Homo sapiens: one gene and its partners. The protein of the gene in region 1 purifies or fractionates together with the protein of each later gene. This does not show direct contact. Each region holds a gene or a part of one and is shown in the gene's direction. Other genes may lie near its edges.

Region 1 (3,500 bases):
TGGAACAGATACCTTGTTCATTTAGAAAGTGTGTTTTTTGTCAAAGAATATTGCAAATGATGATTATAGTGTGGGAGGGAGACTAATAATTAACAAGGAAATTTAAATCTAGAGGAGCAGAAATGCTAGTTTTTAAAAGATAAATTTAGAAACGTCTATGAAAATATGGAGGACAATTTCGTGGTTTTTTTTTTTTTTTTTTTTTTGAGACGGAGTCTCACTCTGTCGCCCAGGCTGGAGTGCAGTGGCGCGATCTCGGCTCACTGCAACCTCCGTCTCCCAGGTTCAAGCAATTCTCCTGCCTCAGCCTCCTGAGTAGCTGGGATTACAGGTGCCCGCCACCATGCCCAGCTAATTTTTGTATTTTTAGTAGAGACGGGGTTTCACCATGTTGGTCAGGCTGGTCTCGAACCCCTGACCTTGTGATCCACCCGCCTAGGCCTCCCAAAGTGCTGGGATTACAGGCGTGAGCCACCGCACCCAGCCCAATTTTGTGTTTTTAGTGAGTCATTGATAACAAAAGATAACGATTATGGGATCTAGTTGCACAAGGTGTAGAATGAGGGACCTTAGAAATACACTTGGTTTTGTTCATGTAGCTAGCAATTCCCAATGCTGAGTTTTCATTACTTCAGGGTGATTTTTGCTTTTTGACTTTCTGCAAAATTCATAAAATGCTAATTTTCATTTCATAAAAACTCTTTTTTTTTTTTTTGAGACGGAGTTTCGTTCTTGTTGCCCAGGCTGGAGTGCAATGGCGCCATCTCAGCTCACCGCAACCTCCGCCTCCTGGGTTCAAGCAACCTCTGCCTCCTGGGTTCAAGCAGTTCTCCTGCCTCAGCCTCCTGAGTAGCTGGGATTACAGGCATGTGCCACCACCCCGGCTAATTTTGTATTTTTAGTAGAGACAGGGTTTCTCCATGTTGATCAGGCTGGTCTTAAACTCCCGACCTCAGGTGATCCACCTGCCTCACCCTCCCAAAGTGCTGGGATTACAATAGGCGTGAGCCACCAGGCCTGGCCTTCATAAAAACTCTTAACTCAGCGCTTTGCTCAACAAGTGACATAATAGAACATAAATGCTTTACAGGTGTGCCAAACTATTGTTTCTTCCCAGTCCTGTGGTGGCAGGAGAAGTTGAGTTAGCATGGGGTTTGGGGCCACTGAGCCTCTTTACCCAGTATTTCCTACCATGTCCATCATTTTCTGTTTGTGTGATGATGTGAAAAAAGTTGAGAGGCATTGTCCTGTAGGCAAGTTTTACCTGCTGTGAATAATTGAGGTTAGGAATGGAGGAATGGTTAGAAAGAAATCTAATTCTAATATTTTAAAAGACTATATGAGTCCCCAAAATGAAGGTTGGTGAGCTTGAAGATCATGAAGTTTCTGGAATAGATTATCAAAGGGATGGTTATTAGCACAGATAAATGTAGTAGATATTATTTGGGGTCAGTTCTGAGAGCAAATTATCTCTAACAGTTCATAGTTCAAGGAAATATGATTTTAGTAAGGGTTTGGCAGAATGTTTGTTGTTTTGTTTCTGAGACAGTGTCTTGTTCTGTCACCCAGGCTGGAGTGCAGTGGTGTGATCATGGCTCATTGCAGCTTCGACCTCCTGGGCTCAAGCCACTTCTCCCGTCTCAGCCTGCTGAGTAGCTGGGACTATAGGTGTGCTCCACCATGCCTGGCTAATTTTTGTATTTTTTCTTGAGATGGGGTTTCACCATGTTGCCCAGGCTGGTCTCAAACTCCGGGGCTCAAGCCTTCCACCCACCCTTGGCTTCCCAAAGTGCTGGGACTACAGGCGTGAGCCACTGCGCCTGGGCACAGATTTGGCAGAATTTTTATAATTTCCCTATTGACTATAGAAAGATAGTTTGGCTTCTAGTATATTTAAGGTGGAATCCCTATCTGGTTGAATAGATACATGTAAAGGGTGCTGATTAATGAATGTCAGCCCGGAGGGAGATTTCTAATGGCATATAATAGGACTTTACCTTCTTTCTTTCTTTTAAATATTTATTAGTTAGATACCTGTATACAAGGAATGCTTAAAATGTTTGTGAGTGACTAAAGGTAGCTGGGATAGTGATTGTGTTTTAGAGACAGTCTTGGGATCCAAAAAAGATCTTGTCTGACTAGAGCAGTGCCAAATGTAATAAGACTGCAGGTTCTATGAGGGCAGGAGAGGTCTCACTCACTGTTGTATCTACAACGCTAGCACAGTGTCTGGTATGTAGATGAACCTGTTGAGTGAATTAATGGAATTGAATAAAATGTTTGTTTCGACCAGTTGTCCTCAGACTTCTCTTCTAATCTTTCTTCCTTTCTTGATAGTTGATGAGACTGTATTTCATGAAAAATTTTTTTTTTTTTTTTTTTTTTGCTTTCGTTGTGAAGGGCTTTTTTTTTTTAGAAGGAACTTTCGAAGAATCATCTTTTGCCCTTAAAGACTTTATATTCCTAAAGAAAGGAAATTGACACTTTGCGGGGAAGAGAAGAACCTTCTGTCTTGCCAAGTGTTTTTGAAAAAATAGAGCTTCGTTACTCTTAATAGGTCAATGTGTTAAGTTCCCAGTTTAATGAATAGGAATGATTGAATTTAGCTCAGTAAAGCACAGTGTAACTATGACCATTTTTTACATTACATTTGCACTGTTTGCCTTGTAGTTCTCTTCTTCGGATATAAACAAATATTTAAAGTGCTGGAAAATCAGGACTGGACAGGTAAACAGAAACAAGTGGAATAAATAGTGGCTGCTCCCTTCCGTTTGGGCACAAACTCTCTAATTTGCCATGGTTCAGAGACAACCTGTAGTATTCTCAATAAGAACGTTATTGTTGGTTTTAAGGAAATTTCTGAGTTGTTTCTATTTGTTACCTAATATTAGTTGTGATACATTTGTGAATAGTAGAGACAGGGTAATTGAAAAGGGTTTGTCTTATCTAAACAAGATACTTTTTCTAATCAGCTCTAGTTGTAGTACTGTGCACCCAGTTTTTCCCATTGGGAGTTTTCGTAAGAGCAGTGAAGAAATCTAGATTTATAAGAATTCTGTTCATATTTTTAAATGTTCCTTTTTTTCAACATTCAGCAAAATATTATGTGCTAGGAACTCTCCCAGACGCTTGTTAACATCTATGAATACAACAAAGATTCTGCCCTCCTGGGCCTCTTTTCTGATGGGGAAGCAAAACAACAAATGATATATGTAAGAGAATTACATATGTACGAAGATGATGAATTCTATGGCGGAAAGAAGTGTAGTAGGTAAGGGGGATTGGTCACAGGTGGGCAGGTTAGTAGGGTAAGCTTCATGGGCAACATGAGATTTAAAGAGAAACTTGAAGGATCGGGGGCTTTTCCCACATGGACACCTGGTGAAGAGTATTCTAGGCAGAGGGTGCATTAGAGCCAAGTCCTGAAGGCAGGAACATGCCCAGGAATAGTGAGGGGATTAGTGCAGTTGGAACAGAGTGAGCAACCAGGAGGGCCTAGG
Region 2 (3,500 bases), on another chromosome or scaffold:
GCGCTGTGGCTCACGCCTGTAATCCCAGCACTTTGGGAGGCCGAGGCTAGTGGATCATGAGGTCAGGAGTTCAAGACCAGCCTGGCCAAGATGGTGAAACCCTGTCTCTACTAAAAATACAAAAATTAGCCGGGCATGGTGGTGGGCATCTATAATCCCAGCTACTTGGGAGGCTGAGGCGGAGAATTGCTTGAACCCAGGAGGCGGAGGTTGCAGTGAGCCAAGATCGCACCACTGCACTCCATCCTGGGCGACAGAGCAAGACTCCGTCTCACAAAAAAAAAAAGAAAAAAAAAAGTGAAGTGAAGTTACAACACTGGGTTAATATGTTTCCATCCAAAAAGCATATAAAAGGCAGGGCATGGTGGCTCACGCCTATAATCCCAGCACTTTGGGAGGCCAAAGTGGGAGGATTACTTGAGCCAGGAGCTGGAGATCAGCCTGAGCAACATAGTGGTAATCCATCTCTACCAGAAGTAAAAAAAAAAAAAAAAACTAGCTGGGCATGGTGGCATACAGCTGTAGTGTCACCTACTTGGGAGGCTGAGGTGGGAGAATCACTTGAGCCTAGGATGTTGAGGCTGCAGTGAGCCCTGATCACACCATTGTACTCCAGCATGGGTGACAGAACAAGACCCTGTCTCAAAACAAAACACGAAAAGCGTGATCAAGATCGTTGGCTGTGTAATCCCAGCATTTTGGGAGGCCAAGGCAGGTGGATCACTTTAGGTCAGGAGTTGGAGATCAGCCTGGCCAACGTGGTGAAACCCTGTCTCTACTAAAAATATAAAAATTAGCCGGGTGTGATGGTGTACACCTGTAATCCCAGCTACTAGGGAGGCTGAGGCAAGAGAATCACTTGAACCCAGGAGGTGGAGGTTGCAGTAAGCTGGGATCGCATCACTGCACTCCAGCGTGGGCGACAAAGTGAGACTCAGTCTCAAAAAAAAAAGACGGGCCAGGTGTGGTGTCTCATGCCTGTAATCTCAGCACTTTGGGAGGCCGATACGGGAGGATCACCTGAGGTCAAGAGTTCGAGACCATCCTGGCCAACATGGTGAAACCCTGTCTCTACTAAAAAGTACAAAAATTAGCCAGGCATGGTGGCGGGCACCTGTAATCTCAGCTACTCGGGAGGCTGAGGCAGCAGAATTGCTGGCACCTGGGAGATGGAGGTTGCAGTGAGCCGAGATTGTGCCATTGCACTCCAGCCTGGGCCAACAACAGTGAGACTCCATCTCAAAAACAAAAAGGACAGTCGTATACTTTTTTTTTTTTTTTTTTTGGAGATGGAGTCTTGCTCTTTGGGCCAGGCTGGAGTGCAGTGGCACGATCTCGGCTCACTGCAACCTACGCCTCCTGGGTTCAAGCGATTCCTCTGCCTCAGCCTCCCGAGTAGCTGGGATTACAGGCGCCCACCACCACTCCCAGCTATTTTTTGTATTTTTAGTAGAGATGGAGTTGCACCATGTTGGGCAGGCTCGTCTCGAACTCCTGACCTCAGGTGATCCACCTGCCTTGGCCTCCCAAAGTGCTGGCATTACAGGCGTGAGCCACCACCCCTGGCCCAATAGTATACTTTCTTTTAGATTTTTTGAAGTATTGAAATACTTTTCAAAACAGGTAATATAGGTTATCTTGAGAGAGGGAAACGTAAGGGACAGGAAAGGAGGGAGGCTTTCACTATTTATGCTTTTTTCCCTTACCAGTTTTGAACCATGTGACTCTATTGCCTAATTCTAAATTTTTTAAAAAAATAAAAAAGCTTATAGTTATTTGCTTCCTTCCTGTATAACCAAGAGTCTGGGACTATGGGTTATAAATTACTAATGTAGATACAATTCTGTTTCTTTTTTTTTTTGAGGTAGAGTTTCACTCTTGTTGCCCAGGCTGGAGTGCAATGGCATGATGTTGGCTCACTGCAACCTCTGCCTCCTGGGTTCAAGCAATTCTCCTGCCTCAGCCTCCTGAGTAGCTGGGATTACAGGCATGTGCCACCATGCCCGGCTAATTTTGTATTTTTAGTAGAGATGGGGTTTCTCCATGTTGGTCAGGCTGGTCTTGAACTCCCAACCTCACGTGATCCACCTGCCTCGGCCTCCCAAAATGCTGGGATTACAGGCGTGAGCCACCTCACCCAGCCCAATTCTGTTTCTTATACCTCAATGTTATATTATCCTGTGCACACCCGGTTATCAAGGGTAGGAATTTCCATTTGAGCTCTACCTGATTTTGAATTGTTTGTAGATATTGCTTGCCTAAGTAAGTGGAAATAATGTAGATGGAAGATGAAAAGTCAGTTCTCTAATTATTTCTATTGCGGGTTATGTTTAAATTTTACATAGGTCTTTTTTATACATGAGAAGTAGAAACCAACTTTAAAAGATTAGAGCTCTTAAAATGTCATTCATTATGTGCTTTTAAATGCAGGTTCTGTCATATGTTGAAGAATCCATACACCATTAAGAAACAGCCTCTGCATCAGTTTGTACAAAGACCACTTTTCCCACTACCTGCAGCCTTTTATCACCCAGGTAAAATTTCACCTCTTTTATAGCAGTTGTGTTTCAGAAACTGATGGAACTGTGCTAGGATTTTGTGGATCATAAAAGATGAGAATTTGTATATTTTCTATTTAGAAGCCTATAGATAGAATATAGGAAAAAAAGCTATATTTTTCTTATAGGCTTCTAAGTAGAAAATGTATTTGCAAGGATATTGTCCAATAGATCTATGAAATCTCAGTATGTTGTATAACATATCCCCTGCAACACAAGAGTTGCTCAATAAATGATTTCCAAAATGAAAATACTGTAGAAGTTAAAATCTGACTGGGTGTGGTGGCTCATGCCTGTAATCCCAGTACTTTGAGAGGCTGAGGCAGGTTGATCGCTTGAGCCCAGGAGTTTGAGACCAGCCTGGGCAACACAGCAAAACCCTGTCTCTACAAAAAATACAAAAAATTAGCTGGGCATGGTGGCGCACACGTGTAGTCCCAGCTGCTTGGGAGGCTGAGGTGGGAGAATCCCTTTAGCCCAGGAGTTCAAGCTTGCAGTGAGCCGTGATCACACCACTGTGCTCCAGCCTGGGTGACAAAGTGGGACCCTGTCTCAAAAAGAAGTTTCAAATGGGGATTGTGTTTCAAAGAATTCTATGTATTTAAAGCTACTGCTGTCCTTTTTTTGGATAAGAATACCCTTAAAATTAGTAAATTTCTGGCTTTCATCCAGACCTTAGAACACAGGATTTTGAATGTAGTAAAAAACTACATTCAAAAAAAAGAAAGAAAAGCTTTTTTGTCAAAATTAATTACTATGGTTTTGTTAATAATCTTGATTGTTAACGAGATATATACTTTAATTTTCTTTAATTTGGGAAATAGATATGATTTAAAATAATTTGAAGTGTGATGACTGTAATGTAGAGTTAGGGAAGTTTAAGGGGAGAGGGTATGTGTGTCTGCATGTGTGTATGTATGTAAATGTATACCTATATGTGTT
Region 3 (3,500 bases), on another chromosome or scaffold:
TTCCCAATGTCTATCTGTATTCTTTTTGCACTTCCCCTGTAGAAACCGATAATTATCTGAATTCCCACTGTTTTCTTCTAAAATTATCTTTGACAACCTTTTAGAAAACTTTCAGTCTTAACCATGCTACTCTACCCCACCACCATTAGAAGGCAAGATAACCACTATTAACCTTTTCTTGACTTTTCTAAGACTTTTCTGTGTGTTTACACAAATGCAATTATGTGCCTAAAAGTTTAGAATACAAAAATGAGAGTACAGTATTTTACAATCTGCTATTTTTACTTTTTTTCACATGTCAAAATTATTCAGAATACCTGCATAATAAATAACTATTTTGTCATTTGTCTATTTAGGTTATTGTTGATTTTTTTTTCCGATTATAACCACAGTGCAGCATTCTGTGTAGATACTATTTTACATGTTTGTTCAATTATTATTTTGATAAATTCCCAGAAGTAGAATTACTAAAACATTTGTACTAATTTTTTCTTTTATGAGCAGTTTAAGAGTAGCCAGATTTGCCTTCTATAATGTAAGTACTCTCATTTGAGGTTAGTTTTTTAAAAGCTTTGCTATTTGGTGGATTTTCTTTTTTTTTTTATAGATTCATTTTTTCTTTTTTTTTTGAGACAGAGTCTCATTCTGTTGCCTAGGTTGAGTGTAGTGGGCACTATCATAGCTCACTGCAGCCTCTACCTTTCAGGCTGAAGTGATCCTCCCACCTCTGCCTCCCAAGTAGCTGAGACTACGGGTATGTGCCACCATGCCCAGCTAATTTTTAAATTTTTCTTTTTTTGTAGAAATGGGGTCGTGCTATGGTGTTCAGGCTTGTCTTGAACTCCTGGACTCAAGAGATCCTCCTGCCTCCGCCTCCCAAAGTGCTGAGATTACAGGCGTGAGCCACCACGCCTGGCTTTTTCTACCCTATTTGTATTGTAGCAATAATCTCTTCATTTCATGGTTGCAATATTTTAGTTTCGGGTTAAAATGACCTTTGGTGGTTAGCTTAGTAACTTAAATCATTACTTAATGCCATTTTAGTGGGATATAATAGTCTAAAATGCAAAGAAATAATTAGGGATAATTTTAGTTTTTTTAAACCCCGTGTTTGACCATTTAACATCTGCGTTAACCAGAGAATTGATTGCTACTCTTCTTTGTAAACCATTTTGTGTGTATGTGTGTGTGTGTATATATACACACACACATACATACATATATATACTTTTTTTTTGGTAGAATTAGTGCACTGAAAGGCTCCAAAGGAAAAGACTGTGAAATCCCTGTGCCTGTGGGTATTTCAGTAACTGATGAAAATGGTAAAATTATAGGTGAGTGTACTATAACTCCAAAAGTTGTAAAAATGTGCACGTTTTCTAAAATGAAACAATGGAATAGCTTCTCTTGAGTTTCAGAAGATTTTTTAACTAACAATTTTAGCTACTATTCTATAAGAGAGCATTTTTAAAACTTATAAAAGTTAAATTGACTGCTAGATTTAAGATTGTTTTAAAGATGTTACAGTTCTTACTTGGTCTTAAAATATATAACTAGGCTCTTTTCAATTGTTTACTGAAGTGTTTTTCTGGGGTCAAACTTTTAATAGATTTGTAAATTGGAATTTCCTGGACTGTTTTTCTGAAAGAACAATATTACATTAATGATTCTACTTATTAATTATAGATTTGTAATTGAGAATTTCCTGGCATGTATTTTTGAAAGTAAAATATTACATTAATGATTTCACTTACTAATCTATAGATTTGTAATTTTGCATTTCTTTGCCTGTATTTCTGAAAGAAATATATTGCATTAGTGATTTCACTTATTAATCTTTGCTGTAAGTATTTCTCTCCCTCTTTTTAAGGAGAACTCAATAAAGAAAATGACAGAATTTTGGTAGCTCAAGGAGGTCTTGGTGGTAAATTACTTACAAATTTCTTACCATTGAAAGGCCAGAAACGAATAATTCACCTTGATCTAAAACTTATAGCTGATGTAGGCCTAGTAGGGTAAGTATCGTTCATATTTTTATTATTATACTTTCAGAGAGAGAGTTCTTGAATAGAAAATAAATGTAAATGGTAATTTGGGGCCATAATTATTTCTAATTTATGGAATTTGTGTGTTGTGTATGTACTTGGAAAATATGCTGCTAAATATTATTTTCAAATTGCCAACACAGAGTTTCATAGTTATTGCTTATTTATAAAATTAAGACCAGAGCAATTGAATAGATCAGTGGGAATGTTAGAGAATGCATAAAGAAAGAAAAATCAATCAAATGCAATATTACAAGATGGTTAAATAATGTTACCAGATATTAATAATAAATCCAAACAAACCGTATTATTATTAAAAATATATAGAAGGAAATAAACAGGGAAAAATGGTTGACATAACTCTTTTGGGTCTTAATAGAGACATTAAAGTATCGTTAATCAAATGGCTAAAGACCAGTACAGACAATCTCAATCCTCAGACTTACGCACTGTTGCCGCCAAATTGAATCCTGCTATGACTGTATATCCTTCTTGCCTCTGCTTAGGATCTATCTAGTCTCAGCAATGTAGGCCTCACAAGAGTGTCCTCTTCCACCAGCCTCCATTCTTTCATTAAATAATGCTGTTTAGCTGTGGGGTTTGCAGTGCAGCTGCCCACTGGAAGGGGATAGATAGTAAGATACAGAATACATAAAGGAAGAGAAAACTTCAATTTGCATTTGCTCTCTCTCCCCCATCCCCCCTCCCTCCTATCCTCTCCCTCTGGCCCTATCACAGTATTACACAGTTATTCAGATGGAAAGCTTAAGGACAAGATAAGGAAAACTGCCTTATTACTGTCCTACTCCAAATTCCTAGTTCTATTTTTTGCTTCCCCATAGCTTCTTTCTAAGTTCTTTTCATGTTCCTCTTCAGTCATCTCACTGCTTCTTTACCAGACTCTTAAGTCTGTATCCCTCGTCTTTTGCCCTGCCTGACCAGCCACTAGAGCTTACCACCATTGGTTTAGGGTTCACAGAGGCCCCATTCCTGCTAAAATTATAACAAGGAAAGATGTGATCCTGGCTTGCCATTTACATTTATTTTTTTCAATAAAGCACAGTTACAAGAGTTATTAGATGTAAGTTCTATAATCCTCTATATTTTTAGGAACATTATGGGCTTAATAGGGTCTTATGGACAAGACTGGCAGTCCAGCCAATCACAGTTGCATTTTGCATAAACATGTGTTTCAAGTTCTGAAGAGACAACTTTACAGTCTAAGAGGAGCCTAGCACGGCTTAGTCATAAAAGTGGAGTGGCATGGAGGACTCAGGTTAGACTATTTAGGTTAGGATCTCAAATCCTCTGGAGGCTGGCCAGCTGGTCTTGGGTAAATTACACAGCCTCTCTAAGCCTTTGTTTTCTCTTCTTTTTTTCTTTTCTTTTCTCTCATTCTTCCTTCACTATAGTTTTTTGCTTTTCACCACGTCATTTGTTTTCTCATCTTTAATA
Region 4 (3,500 bases), on another chromosome or scaffold:
AGAATTGATTTGGGTGATTTCTTCTGGCAATTTCAAAAGATATTTTTGTTGCCTAGACTTCTTATTCTTGCATGTACCACTAGAGGCTATAGTTTGCTTTCGTAAAGGAATTGGCATTTCTCTTGGACCAAACTCAAAGAAGCTGCGTCTAGGGCCTAAATCTTCTAATTTTAGCTACAGAGTAAGTATTTGATGGCATTTAGAGAGTGAGTTCGTGGAATTAATGCTATGTGAAATTGACATCATAAGCACGTGACATGTAGGTAATTTGTTCTTATTTCTTTTCACATTGGTATTGATTATTTGATAAGGCTTGGAAAGCACTTATTCAATACCTGACACACAGTGAGCATTCACTAAAAATTAGCTTTAACCATTATTTAAATTCTATTAATAAATTCTCAGGAGGACAAATTTAGATTTACAAGCTTCAGTATGAGTTTTTATAAATTTCAATCTGATTTTTTAATTGCCTTCTAAAATATTTATCCTATTCTCAGCATTATTACTTAATTTATACGGCAGAATTATGGGAAAATGCATTTTTCTGTTGCCTACTAATGGACAGTGTATAGTGTCATGGTTCTCACCACTTACAAACATCACTGGATTAAAATAAATCTCTATTTTAAATCCTTACTGACATATAAAATTTGTTCTTTTTTTCAAGTGAATATGCTTTTGTGTATGTGACTGTATTAAGAAAATTGAGTCTGAAGAAAATAAGAATTGACTTTATGGGTCTTTTGTAAAAGGAGGTTGTGTTACAATCACCATTGCCTAAAATATTTGTAAATATAACCTTTTTAGAAACGTATATATGGAGGCTGTGATTGTTGCCGAGTAAAAAGTATAAGGATTTGTTTTGTGAATCATTCTATTCAGCCTGATTTTAGATACACCTTGCTGGTAAGTGTTACTTAGCCATCAGTGTACCAGATGTTTGATTAACTACTATAGCAACCTGCCCTTGTGCTGTTGGGGACATATTACCCATCTACCCCGTGAATTATTAAAGCCTGGTGAAAAATTTTATTTCAAACCCTGTTTGGAAGCACGTGGAGAGTAGTGGGGTTCAGTTGTTGAGGAAAGGGTGAGGGCAGAGCATGCACTTAGGTCAGTTATGAATTGAAGGTGAATAGGAGGAGGAGAGAAAGAACAACCGACAATTCCAGCACAACCATGGGTGTGCCTGGGGGAACATGTGGTTCCATGTGACAGTTGAGGCATTTGGGAGACAACCCAGGTCTTGACGTTTGAGTACCGGTCACATGCTCACAGTTAGAGTTCATGAAAAGTTTTGTTTTTCCTCAGCCTTTGAGTAGGCACCACTGTTCCGCAGCCTTAGAATAGCCAAGGAAAAAGAAAGCCAGGGAAAAAGAAAGCTGCTTTGTTATTGTCCTTGCTTATCCTCTCGATTTTGCCACTCACTCTCCCTGTTTTCCCATGTGTGGAACACTTTCCTTTTGCTAAAAGTACCTGCGTATGAGAAGAAGGATGCCGATAAGTTGGGGATTGATTTTAAAAACAAGCAAAGATATGTTTTTTATGGTTAAATGATAATGAGGTGGGAGATGGGGAAGCAAAAGAGAGGCTTGCCTTAATATTTAATCTTAAACTTGGAAAATAATAGTGATCTGACTAAACATTGCCTCATTTTTGTCTGTATTGTTTTGAGTAGCTTAAAGGAAGAATAATGTTTATGCTACGTATTAACTCATTCAGTTTTTCAGTCTTTTCGATATTTCTCATTTGGATTTATCTCCATTGTGATTTTTCTGTCCACTTTGTAAGCCACAAAATACTCATTCCCTTCTATCAGTTTTAACAACTTAAATTTTTATATTTAAGTATTACATTTAAATAATTTAAGTCAATTCACACAAATATAAGGTAACTAACTTCTTTTAAGATGAAGTTTTATGAAATAATGTTTGCATAATTGTTTTTCATTTGTTCTTTGGTAAAAAGAAATAATATATTATTGTTATGATATATCTTAAATCACTGTGGATATTAACTCCTAGAAATACTTTACCAGCTGTTTACTTAGATAATAAAATTATATTATTGCAAGAAATCCTTGTCTCAACTTTCAAACAAGATGAGAAGAAAAATGAACTTGTGATTTCCACATTGATACATTTTCATATGCAACCTGAAATGGTAAAGTTATAAATAAACTATTTCATTATTAGTTTCTACAAGGGAAAAATAACTGAAGCAGCAAGCTTCTAATGTATTTTTTTAGCATAGTGTACCAGATATATTATGGTTTGCCCACTATCCTTTCAACTTACATTTGCATGTAGCTCTTCTTTGCCTCTCCAAAACTTAGGTTTATTTTAAGGCCTCAACCCAAGGCTTCCTCCATTAATGTAAGTGCAGTCAGTTATGATTTCACTCTTCTCTAAACTGACCACCTATTGTGCTCCTTTATCGAATACGGGCCTCTGGCATTTCTACCATACAACTGTGGAGATGAAACATAAATACGTTTATAAAAAGTACAAGCTTTCTCAGGCAGGGGATTTATCGTCTATCTCCTTTATGTACCCCATGATGCTTATTTAACATGGTGCTAAATGTGGTGAGCGCTCTCTGGGTGTTTTGTGAATTCATGTAAGATTAAAACATAATATTTTGGAAGTTATGCAACCCTTTAGACGAGTACACCCATACAAATTAGTCTATAAAAAGATTTAGGAATGACTACCAGAAGAATAATTGCATTTGTTTAGACATGCTATTATACATTAAAATCCCAGTTTCTTAAAGACTGTTTTTCTTTTTGAGATCATTAGGATCTTTTTTAAACTGATTCCTTTTTCCAGTTTGAGATACACACACACACCCACACACCCACCCACACCCACACCCACACATCCACACACCCTTGGTAGAAAATGTGAAAAATAAGGGGAAAAAATCCTCATGTTTTTCTACCGTACAAAGATAATCACTGTTAACATTTGTTTTGTTCTGCCAGACTTATCATTGGATTTTAAGTAACAGAATTGTAATCCTGTCATTTTCACTTAACATTGTAACACTTAAACTCTTTTCTATTCCAAATTCTTTGTAAATTTTATTTTAACAGTTTGCATTATAGCCTGCGGGAGCCGAGCCCTTTAATTGAATAGGTAGGAAGAGTGGATGGTGAAATGCCTATATTTTTCTCTCTTGTCTGCTATAAAAGACATTTGCAAAAGTTGCTTCCATGAGGCAGAAATTGAAATGGGACTCAAATTCAGGTGTACTGAATTCTGCTCTTGTGCTTTTTCCAGGAAACCAGAAGTAAACTTTAAGTAGCTGTTGCTAATAATGATGAGCATCACTGGAAAGCTCACTGTGTGCCAGGGACCGTGCTGTGTGCTTTGCCTGTGTTCTCTCATGATCCTTATATTAATATAACCCACCAGGTTGACACTATTTTCCCCATCTTATAGGTGAGGAAACTGAGGCTTAGGTCAAGTAATTTGCCCAAAATAGTATTCAGA
Region 5 (4,264 bases), on another chromosome or scaffold:
AAAGAATAATATGGCAGTCGGGTCAGATTCACTGTATCTAAAGATCTTGCTCCTAATTCCGATGGCATGTCTGTAATTGGGCCCCCAATTTCAAATTTAGTCCACTCTTCTTTTCTATACAAGGAGAGGCTTTATGCTCCACCTGCTACATGACCCAAATCAATAATCCAATGCAGCAGCTTGGGGAACCCTAGGTTTTCACTATGGGACCAAATAAACTCAGAATACTTTTGAGAACTTCAATCACATGAAATAATTATTTCAGAGAAGGATCCTTGTGGAAAGACCGTAACAGGAAGAGCATTCTGAGGTAACCTTTCCCAACTTTCTCCTCCACACATTCTTGCAGAGGAAATTAAGAGAGAGAAAAAAATTAAGAAATCCCAACTTAGTCCGGACTCTAGTAGTACATGTCAAGCACAGAACCCCTAATTTAAGACCCGCGTCCCGAGGCCAGGCTCCCTCGGGAAGGTAGCGAGTGCATCGCGATAAAATCTTTCCTCCCGCCTTCGGAGTCAAACGGCCCCGCAATCCAAACAGTTTAGAATCCAGCTTGTTCTTAATGCCACAGTCAAGAGAAGATCCATAACCCGCCTTGGTCATCTGCCCTTCTGTGTTCACAACCGTTCAGGGCACAAGTTCTTCGGTCTAACCGAATCTTTCCCTGCTGCGGGGTTAAGCCCAACCTTTCTTTCTGACCTTGGGGAGCCGGCAGCTCCCCGCCCGGTGCCCTCACAAAAGCCTTTGGGGGCTCCCTCTCCAAGATGAGACGTTTATCCCATCCCCCCACCCTCCTAAATTTAGGACAGGAAAGCTTTAGGGCCACCGTCTCTCTTCCGGGACCGATCACACTTCGTTCCAAATAGGAAAAGACAGGGGGGAAAAAAGATGGAGGGGCGGGAGACCTGGACCCCGGAGAGTCACCTTCCAGCTACCCACAGGAACCAAGCATCCGATCACTCGCGCATCCCTCTCCCCTCCTCCCCCGGCCCGCAGTGCACCCCACAGGGAGCCCCGCCGGGTCCACTCTTGCTCCGACCCCCATTTCGCGCGCCCCCTCGGCTCTATCTCCCAGATCCTCAGGCGACGAATGGAAAGGGGGTCCCTTCCCTCTCACCTGGGACGGAGGCGCTCGCTCATGGCAGCTGGCGGATGGAAGCTACGCGGCGCCGCTCCGCGAAGAGAGGGAACAGAGGGGGTTGTGTTTCGGCGGCCGCCACGCCCACCCCCTCGGGCCTTGGCTCTCGCAGCCGCTCGGGTGGACGCAGCCGGTGGCGAGTACCCCTCAGTCGGACCCGTACCACCACTACTTCCGGCGTCTGCTCCGCGCCCCCCCATGTCGCTGCCGCCGTGGTACCGCCCTCTCGCGGCTGCGCAGTGGCACCATCCCAACCGCACCGACTGGTAACCCCGCCCACGGGAAGAGGCGGGCTCGGAGCGGGAGGAGCGACTAGGAGCTTCTGGGAGAAAGGACCTCCCCTGGGGTGGCAGAAGCGCTCGCCTGTTCACAGCCAACGGAGGGTACGGTATAAAAGTCAAGCCAGGTTTCAAATAAATTCAATTATGTCATAATAATATCATACAAGTATTTGAGTTGAATCCGTGTAACATATTTTAAAACAGGCGGACCTATCCGGCAGTGGTGCAGACGGCCTGACGAGGTTCCTTGGCCGGGGGTTGGGCAGGGGCCTGGGGGGCTTCCCTGGGGGGCTTGTCGCCGGGGCCGCCTGGGCTTTCAGGTCTTCCGAGGTGAGGACGGTGCTCTGTGGGGAGCTTGCAAGGGCGGGTTTGTTTTCCGCGGCCCACGTTCTAAGTCTGGGGGAGACTCTCCTGAGCGGAGAGGGTAGGGAATCGGGTGCCGGGGCCGGCGGAGGGTCTTCCTGGAACCGCAGGAGGAAATCCTCGGTGGGGCTGCGGGAACGGCTGTCCCTGACCCAGGAGCTGCCGGGCCGACCCCATCCACTCCGCAGAATCAGAACAGCTGGCAGAATCAGAACAGCTTTCAGGGAAAGGAAGGGTGCGGGGAGGTGGGCAGGCTGGTAACGCAGCGGGAGGAGGGAAAGGCGGCTGGAGAGCGCCGGAGGTGAGGGTGAGGATTAGTGGAACTATTGAGGTCCTCCTTGAGCCCGGAGGCTGGGGAGGTCTTAACTCTCTGCTTTCCGGAACCTGTGTTTCTATTTGGTTCAGTATCGTGCCGCGTTTACTCACTGTGCATGCTGCCAAGTCACCTGTCTGATCGTGTCCTACACAGGCTGACATTCACGTTTCATTCTGCCACACTCGGGAACGGTGATCGGGGAAGCATGGGGATCCGGGAGAAGCACCCACAAAACTAGCATCCTCCTGGAGGAGCTCGGGTAAGAAAACAGACACCCACGTATAGACGTTATCGTGGGAATGTACCGGGATCTTTCAAGTAGGGTTGAGTGTGAGGTGGAGTGGAGGCAGAAACGTCTAGCAGGTGTCAAGCCCTTCCTAACGTTGTTAGCCGAAGGTCCATGGACTGGCTTCATTTGTGTGTATTATTGTAAACAAACAGTCTGTGGCTTTCATCCTGTTAGTGTGTACCTCCAAAGAAAGAAAGAATGATGGCTCACGCCTGTAATCCCAGCAGGCTGGGCGCGGTGGCTCACGCCTGTAGTCCCAGCACTTTGGGAGGCCGAGGCGGGTGGATCACCTGAGGTCAGGAGTTCAAGACCAGCCTGGCCAACATGGTGAAACCCCGTCTCTACTAAAAATACTAAAATTAGCTGGGCGTGGTGGCGCACGCCCTTAATCCCAGTAATCCCAGCCACGCGGGAGGCTGAGGCAGGAGAACCGTTTGAACCTGGGAGGCTGAGGTTGCTGTGAGCCGAGATCGCGCCACTGCACTCCAGCCTGAGTGATAGAGCAAGACTCCATCTCAAAAAAAAAAAGACCAAACAACAACAAAGTAAAAATGATTACTGTAATCTGTTGGCAGAAAACAGTTTTGTTTTGAAGGACTTCGTACAGGATAAGGTGGGTTGGTTGCTTTATTGAATGGATTGGTGAAGATTGTGTCTATTTTGTAAGTGGTTTCAGTCACCCTTTTTAATCTCTTTGGTAGTCAGAAGATATTATCAGTTGTAGTACTGAATAATATTTAAACGTTTATATCTAAAGAATTAAGTGAACAAATATTGTATGCCAGGCTCAGTGCTAGGTTTTTACATACAGCTGTGTGCAGGATAGATATGTTTCCTGCCCTCTGGAACTTTATAGAAAGAATAAGAGATGTAGAAAGGAAATAACTTTCAACTAAACATTGGAATTAAACATTTTCTTTTCTGGACTCTAAAGAATAACAGGTACAAATATACATGGTATAAATGTTTTTTTTTTAATTTTTTACATCGTATATGTTTAACAAAGATGTCAAACTAATTTGCCAGTAATCTGTTGTACTAGAAACTATAAGTAGGCCAGGCGTGGTGTCTCACGCCTGTAATCCCAGCACACTGGAAGGCCGAAGGCGGGCAGATCACGAAGTCAGGAGATTGAGACCATCCTGGCCAACATGGTGAAACCCCGTCTCTACTAAAAATACAAAAATTAGCCTGGCGTGGTGGCGCATGCCTGTAGTCCCAGCTCCTCGGGATGCTGAGGCAGGACAATAGCTTGAACCTGGGAAATGGAGGTTTCAGTGAGCCGACACTGCACTCCGGCCTGGTGACAGAGTGAGACTCTGTCTCAAAAAAAAAAAAAAAAAAGTATAAGTGAAAAACAGGACTGTGTCCTTGGCCATGTATATATTTGTGCATTATGCATACATTTTATGTATATCTGTGTGTGTGTGTGTGTGTATATGCATATTACTAAATGTTAGTAGAGCTTCATTTCTCATTCTTTGATTGTGGTAATTCTAATATTTTCTTCTTACACCCTAGTGCATATTCTATTTATCACTTTGGAAACCTCTGCTGTAATCAGTAACCTTTGGCTGGGCGTGGGCGTGGTAGCTCGCGCCTGTAATCTCAGCACTTTAGGGGGCTGAGGTGGGTGGATTGCCAGAGCTCAGGAGTTCGAGACCAGTCTGGGTAACACGGACACGGTGAAACCCCGTCTTTACTAAAATACAAAAAATTAGTCAGGCGTGGTGGCATGCCCCTGTAGTCCCAACTACTTGGGAGGCTGAGACGAGAATTGCTTGAACCTGGGAGGCGGAGTTTGCAGTGAGCAGATATTGTGCCACTGCACTCCAGCCTGGGTGACAGAGTGAGACTCTGTTTCCAAAATAAATAAA
Region 6 (2,389 bases), on another chromosome or scaffold:
TTTTTCTCTGTGTCCTCACGTGGTGGAAGGGACAAGGGACCTCTCTTCAGGCCTCTTTCATAAGGGCACTAATCTCTTTCATGAGGCCAGATCCCTCATGACCTAATCACCTGCTAAAGGCCCCACCTCCAAATACCATCATCCTGGAGGTCAGGATTTTAACAAATGAATTCTGGAGGGATATAGACATTTAGACCCTAGCACATACTGATATAACATCAAATGGTGATAGATCAGTATCCGTAGTCTCCTTTTATATACTTGAATACAGTAGAGTCTCCTCAAATACACTTAAATCATAAAAACTCAACTGTATATGCTTGGAACAAAAAAAGAAGAAGAAGAAAATAACTACTTAAATAGTGTGGGTGATTTCAGCCACTATTCTCGTTTGGAAATATTTACCCCAAGTGGGTATGAGCTAGGAGACCTGGATCTGCCTTTAGCTCATTTGATTTCAGTTCCCACAGGCCTCTCATAGTGCAGGCATCTCTGCACAACTCTGTTAGTCTCCCACTTAGTAGCCATGTTAACCAAAACGAAAGTGAGACCATATAGGATCTATGAGTCCATTTATATGTATACAAAAGAAAATAGAAATCTCTTTCTGGGGTTGCTAATAAGTTTGATTCTGTTGCATGAAGATTGTCTTCACATTTACTACACAGGGCTCTGAAGACTTCAAACACACTTACTATACTTAGCCCTAGACAACCCCAAAACAAGAAAACCAGTCAAGACCCTCATCCCTCTTCCCTCTCTGGGGAAGACATTTAAGTATATTAGTCCTTCCCTACTGGCAATGTGTCTTGTTTCTACATTCTTGAAAAAAATGAAAGGATTTCAAAATACATGGAGTATATTCATGTGATTCAAGTAAAACTAAGTGGTTTTGTGGGTGGGGACAGGGGACTAAGCAGTGCTACCCATGGACGACAGTGCCAGCAATGCCAGATTGACCTGTAGGGCTCTCATTTGACTAGTGCATTTGGGCTGTAGGCCTCTGATTTGACCAGTGCATTTGACCTGTAGGCCTCTGATTTGACCAGTACATTTGGGCTGTAGGCCTCTGATTTGACCAGTGCATTTGACCTGTAGGCCTCTGATTTGACCAGTGCATTTGGGCTGTAGGCCTCTGATTTGACCAGTGCATTTGACCTGTAGGCCTCTGATTTGACCAGTACATTTGGGCTGTAGGCCTCTGATTTGACCAGTACATTTGACCTGTAGGCCTCTGATTTGACCAGTGCATTTGGGCTGTAGGCCTCTGATTTGACCAGTGCATTTGACCTGTAGGCCTCTGATTTGACCAGTGCATTTGGGCTGTAGGCCTCTGATTTGACCAGTGCATTTGGGCTGTAGGCCTCTGATTTGACCAGTGCATTTGACCTGTAGGCCTCTTATTTGACGAGTACATTTGGGCTGTAGGCCTCTGATTTGACCAGTGCATTTGGGCTGTAGGCCTCTGATTTGACCAGTGCATTTGACCTGTAGGCCTCTGATTTGACCAGTGCATTTGGGCTGTAGGCCTCTGATTTGACCAGTGCATTTGACCTGTAGGCCTCTGATTTGACCAGTACATTTGGGCTGTAGGCCTCTGATTTGACCAGTACATTTGACCTGTAGGCCTCTGATTTGACCAGTGCATTTGGGCTGTAGGCCTCTGATTTGACCAGTACATTTGGGCTGTAGGCCTCTGATTTGACCAGTACATTTGGGCTGTAGGCCTCTGATTTGACCAGTACATTTGGGCTGTAGGTCTCAGATTTGACCTGTACATTTGGGCTGTAAGCCTCTGATTTGACCAGTGCATTTGACCTGTAGGCCTCTGATTTGACCAGTGCATTTGGGCTGTAGGTCTCAGATTTGACCTGTATATTTGGGCTGTAGGCCTCTGATTTGACCAGTGCATTTGGCAGATGGCACAACCACATGGGCTCTACTTCTGCTCTGTAAGTTTATATACCAAATCTGTGGACCACAAAGGACCTCTGTGTTGTTTTTTTTCTTTTTATTTATGTTTTATTGTTTATATTCATGGTTTGCAACATGATGTTATGAGTATATATAGACAGTAAAATGGTTACTATAATGAAGCAGATGAACATATCTAGGACCTCTGTGTTTTCAAATATTAACCTGTCACACTGAATCTCAAGGTGTTTGTCAAAGCTGGAGACAAAGTGAAAGCGGGAGATTCCCTCATGGTTATGATCGCCATGAAGATGGAGGTAAGGAAATCATGAGTTCATTTGCTATGAGGACTTTGGGAGCAATCATACCTAATGGTTCTTTTGCCTTATTTTGTAAGTTAATACCACCTTAAATATGAAAAGCCATGATTGACGAAGCATTAATTGTAGGAAACAAAACCAAACTATCCTTCTTG
Region 7 (3,500 bases), on another chromosome or scaffold:
AAAAAGAAAAAGGCTATCATGAAGACATGATATTCTATTTAATGAATATTCTATTATATGAAGAATTTCTATTTAATGAAGAATTCTATTTAATGAAGAATATTCTATTTAATGAAGAAATTTTACCTAAGGGCATGGGGAAGTTGTGGGGGAGTGTATGTGTATGTAGGTATTTCTTTGAATTCCTAGGGGAATGGTTTTTAACTTGTTTACAAAAGAAAAATAATATTAAACAGGCACCGTTTTCTTAAGTCAAACATTTTCATAACTTACCAATTAGAATTATGAAAAAAACTTATATCTGCAAGTTTAAATTTAGCATAGCTCTTGTAAGCTATAAGCAGCTTATGCAACTTAATGTTCTAGGAATTCTATTTAAATCCAAGTAATAGTTATCAATGTTGAATCTTTTCACTCAGTCTTGACAGCCCAGTGTTGTTTTTTCAAACCTTGGGAAATATTTGTCAGATGAAAAAGTTTGTTCTTTTCTTATTTTAAAAATGAATTTAACAATTAAATGTAAACTTTTTTAGTTTAAAGTACTATTCAAAGAGGAATATTCAAAATAGTCTGAAGAGGCTGGGCACAATGTCTCATGCCTATAATCCCAGCACTTCGGGAGGCCGAGGCGGGCAGATCACTTGAGGTCAGGAGTTCAAGACCAGCCTGACCAACATGGTGAAACCCTGTAACTACTAAAAATACAAAAATTAGCCAGGCATATTGGCACGGGCCTGCAGCCCCAGCTACTCAGGAGGCTGAGGCAGGAGAATCGCTTGAACCTGGAGGTAAAGGTTGCAGAGATCAGGCCACTGCACTCCAGCCTGGGTGACAGAGCAAGACTATGTCTAAAAAAAAAAGTCTGAAGAAATTGCATTTCTGCTACTTTGTGCCCCTTTTAAAACGCAATTTTTCCTTAAACTAAATGTGTGGTTATTCTAAAATAACTTCTTTGCCTTTCCATCCAGAGCAAAATTAATGTTAACAAGTCTCTTAAAGTGAAATATGTACACTTTCCAGTTCTGAAGTAAAAAGGGATGGGAACCCTGTGGTGTTGAGAGTAAAATAAGGTGCCTGAGATAAGCTACAAGTCAAGTTACAAATAGCGACTTACTACTGCTTGATATTCTTCTTGTCCCAAACTGGCAATATCATAAAGCAAACTTCTGCTTAAATATGATACCCCTTACTTGTTGTTTTAGGATATTCGAAATCAAAGAATCTATCGTAAGCTTCGAAAAGCTGAATTGGCAAAACTTCAGCAGACCCTGAATGCACTTAACAAGAAGGCAGCATTTTATGAAGAGCAAATCAATTATTATGACACCTACATAAAGACTTGTTTAGACAACTTAAAAAGAAAGTAAGTTAAAATCATGTCATGTTCATTTGTAATGTCATGATTTCTATGAGATGTCAATTCTGTGTTTCTAGGCAGTTGGGTTGGGTATGGAAGAAAACTTTTTGCTCTGTCTTCTAACCGAAAACTAGAGTCTCAGTTTTATTATTTGCCACTGTGAACTAAGAAGTCAGGAGTAAGTGAAAGCTTTTCAATTCCCCACCAGCACTAGAATTAAAGTGGCTTACCTGTTGTATATTGAGCAAATAGCATTAGTAAGTTAGGGAAGCACTTTCATTATTCCTTTTGTCTTTTTTAGCCAAAGATTTTTTTAAATACTATTATTTTTAAAGTCTCTTGTTTTTGGAATGTATTTTATATAATTGATAATATTAGATAATGCCAGGTGTTTGCTAATTGCACAGAGCAGCTGAATGTTTTTAAATTGCTTCATGGTTTTAAAAAATTATTGACACAACTGGCAAAATTTGGCAGCTGTCTATTATCCATTAGCATAAGTATTATAGGTTTTTATATACAGTATAGCCATTTTTAATGAATATCCTTTGCTTAGTAATTATTCTTATCACTAGACTATGATCAATGCTAGTTAAATTTTAATTACCCATTTAAATATGTAGTACAATATTTTTATATAATCCTTGTCATCAAATTGGCAGGAGGAAATGGTGCTGTATGGAAAAATCTGTTGCATTAATCATAGATCTTTTAAATTTTATTGCAAATTGACTATAATTTTATGTATTCCTGGGGTACAAGGTGATGTTATCATTTATTATTACAATGTGAAATAATTAATTCATATATGCATCACCTCAAATACTTAGTTTTTGTGATAAGAACACTTGAAATTTACTCCTAGCAGTTTTTAAATGTGCAATACATTATTATTAGCTATATTCACCACACTGTGCAATAGATTTCAAAAAAAAACTGATTCCTCCTAAGATTTCATATCCTTTGACCATCATCTCCCCGTTTCCCCCACCCTCCAGCCTCTGAAACCACCATTCTATTCTGCTTCTATGAGTTCAACTTTTTTAGATTCCACATATAAGCGAGAACATGTGGTATTTGCCTTTCTGTGCCTGGCCTATTTCACTTAGCATAGTGTCCTCTAATTCTGTCCACATTGCCCCAAATGTCAGAATTTCTTTGTTTTAGGGCCGAATAGTATTCTTCTGTGTGTATATATACCACATTTTCTTTACCTGTTCATCTGTTAGTAGATTCTTAGGTTGATTTCATAACTTAGCTAACGTGTGAGTAGTGCTGCAATGAAGATGGGAGTGCAGACATCTCTTTGACAAACTGATTTCACATCTTGGAGTAAACACCCAGAAGTTGGATTGCTGAAATCACAGAAGATTTGATAAAGGGATGCAGCCACATTTAAACCTTATTGATTTGGCTCCCACTAGTCCTGAATTTTAGTTCATTTGCTTCAGGCTTCTCTCTGTTTCTCTCTCTCTCTCTCTCTCTCTCTCTCTCTCTCTCTCTCTCTCTCTCTCTCTCTCACTCTCGTGCTCTCTCTCTCTCCATATATAGTTCATTTGCTTCAGGCTTCTCTCTGTTTCTCTCTCTCTCTCTCTCACTCTCACTCTCGTGCTCTCTCTCTCTCCATATATAGTTCATTTGCTTCAGGCTTCTTTCTGTTTCTCTCTCTCTCTCTCTCTCTCTCTCTCTCTCTCTCTCTCTCTCACTCTCGTGCTCTCTCTCTCTCCATATATAGTTCATTTGCTTCAGGCTTCTTTCTGTTTCTCTCTCTCTCTCTCTCTCTCTCTCTCTCTCTCTCTCTCACTCTCGTGCTCTCTCTCTCTATATATATATATATACAAAAATACACTAAATATGTATATACACACACTACATATAGTGTGCATATGCACTTATAATTACATAAACATATACACTATACACTAAATATAGGAAGGAAGGAAGAATATATACATATACATGCAAGGAAGAAGTTGGTCAAGCTTACTTTCAGTAGAAATGAGATTGTTAGGGATTTACTTTAAGGCATTTCACACAAGATCCACAGTCGGGCGAATTGGATTTGGGTTCTGATTCTCTCTTATGTCGTGTGATCTTGAGCCCAGTTCAGTGAACTTTGAGCCTCAGTTTTCTCATCCTTAAG

What was found.
Region 2: the proteins of SUCLA2 (region 1) and NFU1 fractionate together in Homo sapiens (co-fractionation; one large-scale study listed by BioGRID). This does not show direct contact.
Region 3: the proteins of SUCLA2 (region 1) and GTPBP10 purify together in Homo sapiens (affinity purification with mass spectrometry; 2 studies listed by BioGRID and IntAct, with this or other methods). This does not show direct contact.
Region 4: the proteins of SUCLA2 (region 1) and LONP2 purify together in Homo sapiens (affinity purification with mass spectrometry; 2 studies listed by BioGRID and IntAct, with this or other methods). This does not show direct contact.
Region 5: the proteins of SUCLA2 (region 1) and MTNAP1 purify together in Homo sapiens (affinity purification with mass spectrometry; 2 studies listed by BioGRID and IntAct, with this or other methods). This does not show direct contact.
Region 6: the proteins of SUCLA2 (region 1) and MCCC1 purify together in Homo sapiens (affinity purification with mass spectrometry; 2 studies listed by BioGRID and IntAct, with this or other methods). This does not show direct contact.
Region 7: the proteins of SUCLA2 (region 1) and IQGAP2 purify together in Homo sapiens (affinity purification with mass spectrometry; 2 studies listed by BioGRID and IntAct, with this or other methods). This does not show direct contact.

What each region holds. Positions count from the first base shown.
Region 1 is NC_000013.11:47,991,274-47,994,773, reverse strand, and holds part of SUCLA2 (succinate--CoA ligase [ADP-forming] subunit beta, mitochondrial precursor), read left to right. Parts: intron 1-3,500. UniProt on the Homo sapiens protein: ATP-specific succinyl-CoA synthetase functions in the citric acid cycle (TCA), coupling the hydrolysis of succinyl-CoA to the synthesis of ATP and thus represents the only step of substrate-level phosphorylation in the TCA.
Region 2 is NC_000002.12:69,430,936-69,434,435, reverse strand, and holds part of NFU1 (NFU1 iron-sulfur cluster scaffold homolog, mitochondrial), read left to right. Parts: intron 1-2,430; coding exon 2,431-2,534; intron 2,535-3,500. UniProt on the Homo sapiens protein: Iron-sulfur cluster scaffold protein which can assemble [4Fe-4S] clusters and deliver them to target proteins.
Region 3 is NC_000007.14:90,353,216-90,356,715, forward strand, and holds part of GTPBP10 (GTP-binding protein 10), read left to right. Parts: intron 1-1,242; coding exon 1,243-1,334; intron 1,335-1,870; coding exon 1,871-2,015; intron 2,016-2,491; exon of another isoform or gene 2,492-3,500. UniProt on the Homo sapiens protein: May be involved in the ribosome maturation process. Complements an ObgE(CgtA) function in E.coli ribosome maturation. Plays a role of GTPase in vitro. When missing, disorganization of the nucleolar architecture is observed.
Region 4 is NC_000016.10:48,271,800-48,275,299, forward strand, and holds part of LONP2 (lon protease homolog 2, peroxisomal), read left to right. Parts: intron 1-3,500. UniProt on the Homo sapiens protein: ATP-dependent serine protease that mediates the selective degradation of misfolded and unassembled polypeptides in the peroxisomal matrix.
Region 5 is NC_000017.11:73,230,969-73,235,232, forward strand, and holds the start of MTNAP1 (mitochondrial nucleoid-associated protein 1), read left to right. Parts: upstream 1-1,464; 5' UTR 1,465-1,521; exon of another isoform or gene 1,522-1,661; intron 1,662-1,692; exon of another isoform or gene 1,693-1,749; intron 1,750-2,187; exon of another isoform or gene 2,188-2,251; 5' UTR 2,252-2,357; intron 2,358-2,488; exon of another isoform or gene 2,489-3,000; intron 3,001-4,264. Other genes in the region: protein VCF1, read right to left, coding at 1,118-1,338. UniProt on the Homo sapiens protein: Critical regulator of mitochondrial DNA (mtDNA) abundance. Binds dsDNA throughout the mitochondrial genome without sequence specificity and controls mtDNA copy number by promoting its replication.
Region 6 is NC_000003.12:183,017,108-183,019,496, reverse strand, and holds part of MCCC1 (methylcrotonoyl-CoA carboxylase subunit alpha, mitochondrial isoform 1 precursor), read left to right. Parts: intron 1-2,159; coding exon 2,160-2,231; intron 2,232-2,389.
Region 7 is NC_000005.10:76,696,785-76,700,284, forward strand, and holds part of IQGAP2 (ras GTPase-activating-like protein IQGAP2), read left to right. Parts: intron 1-1,202; coding exon 1,203-1,363; intron 1,364-3,500. UniProt on the Homo sapiens protein: Binds to activated CDC42 and RAC1 but does not seem to stimulate their GTPase activity. Associates with calmodulin.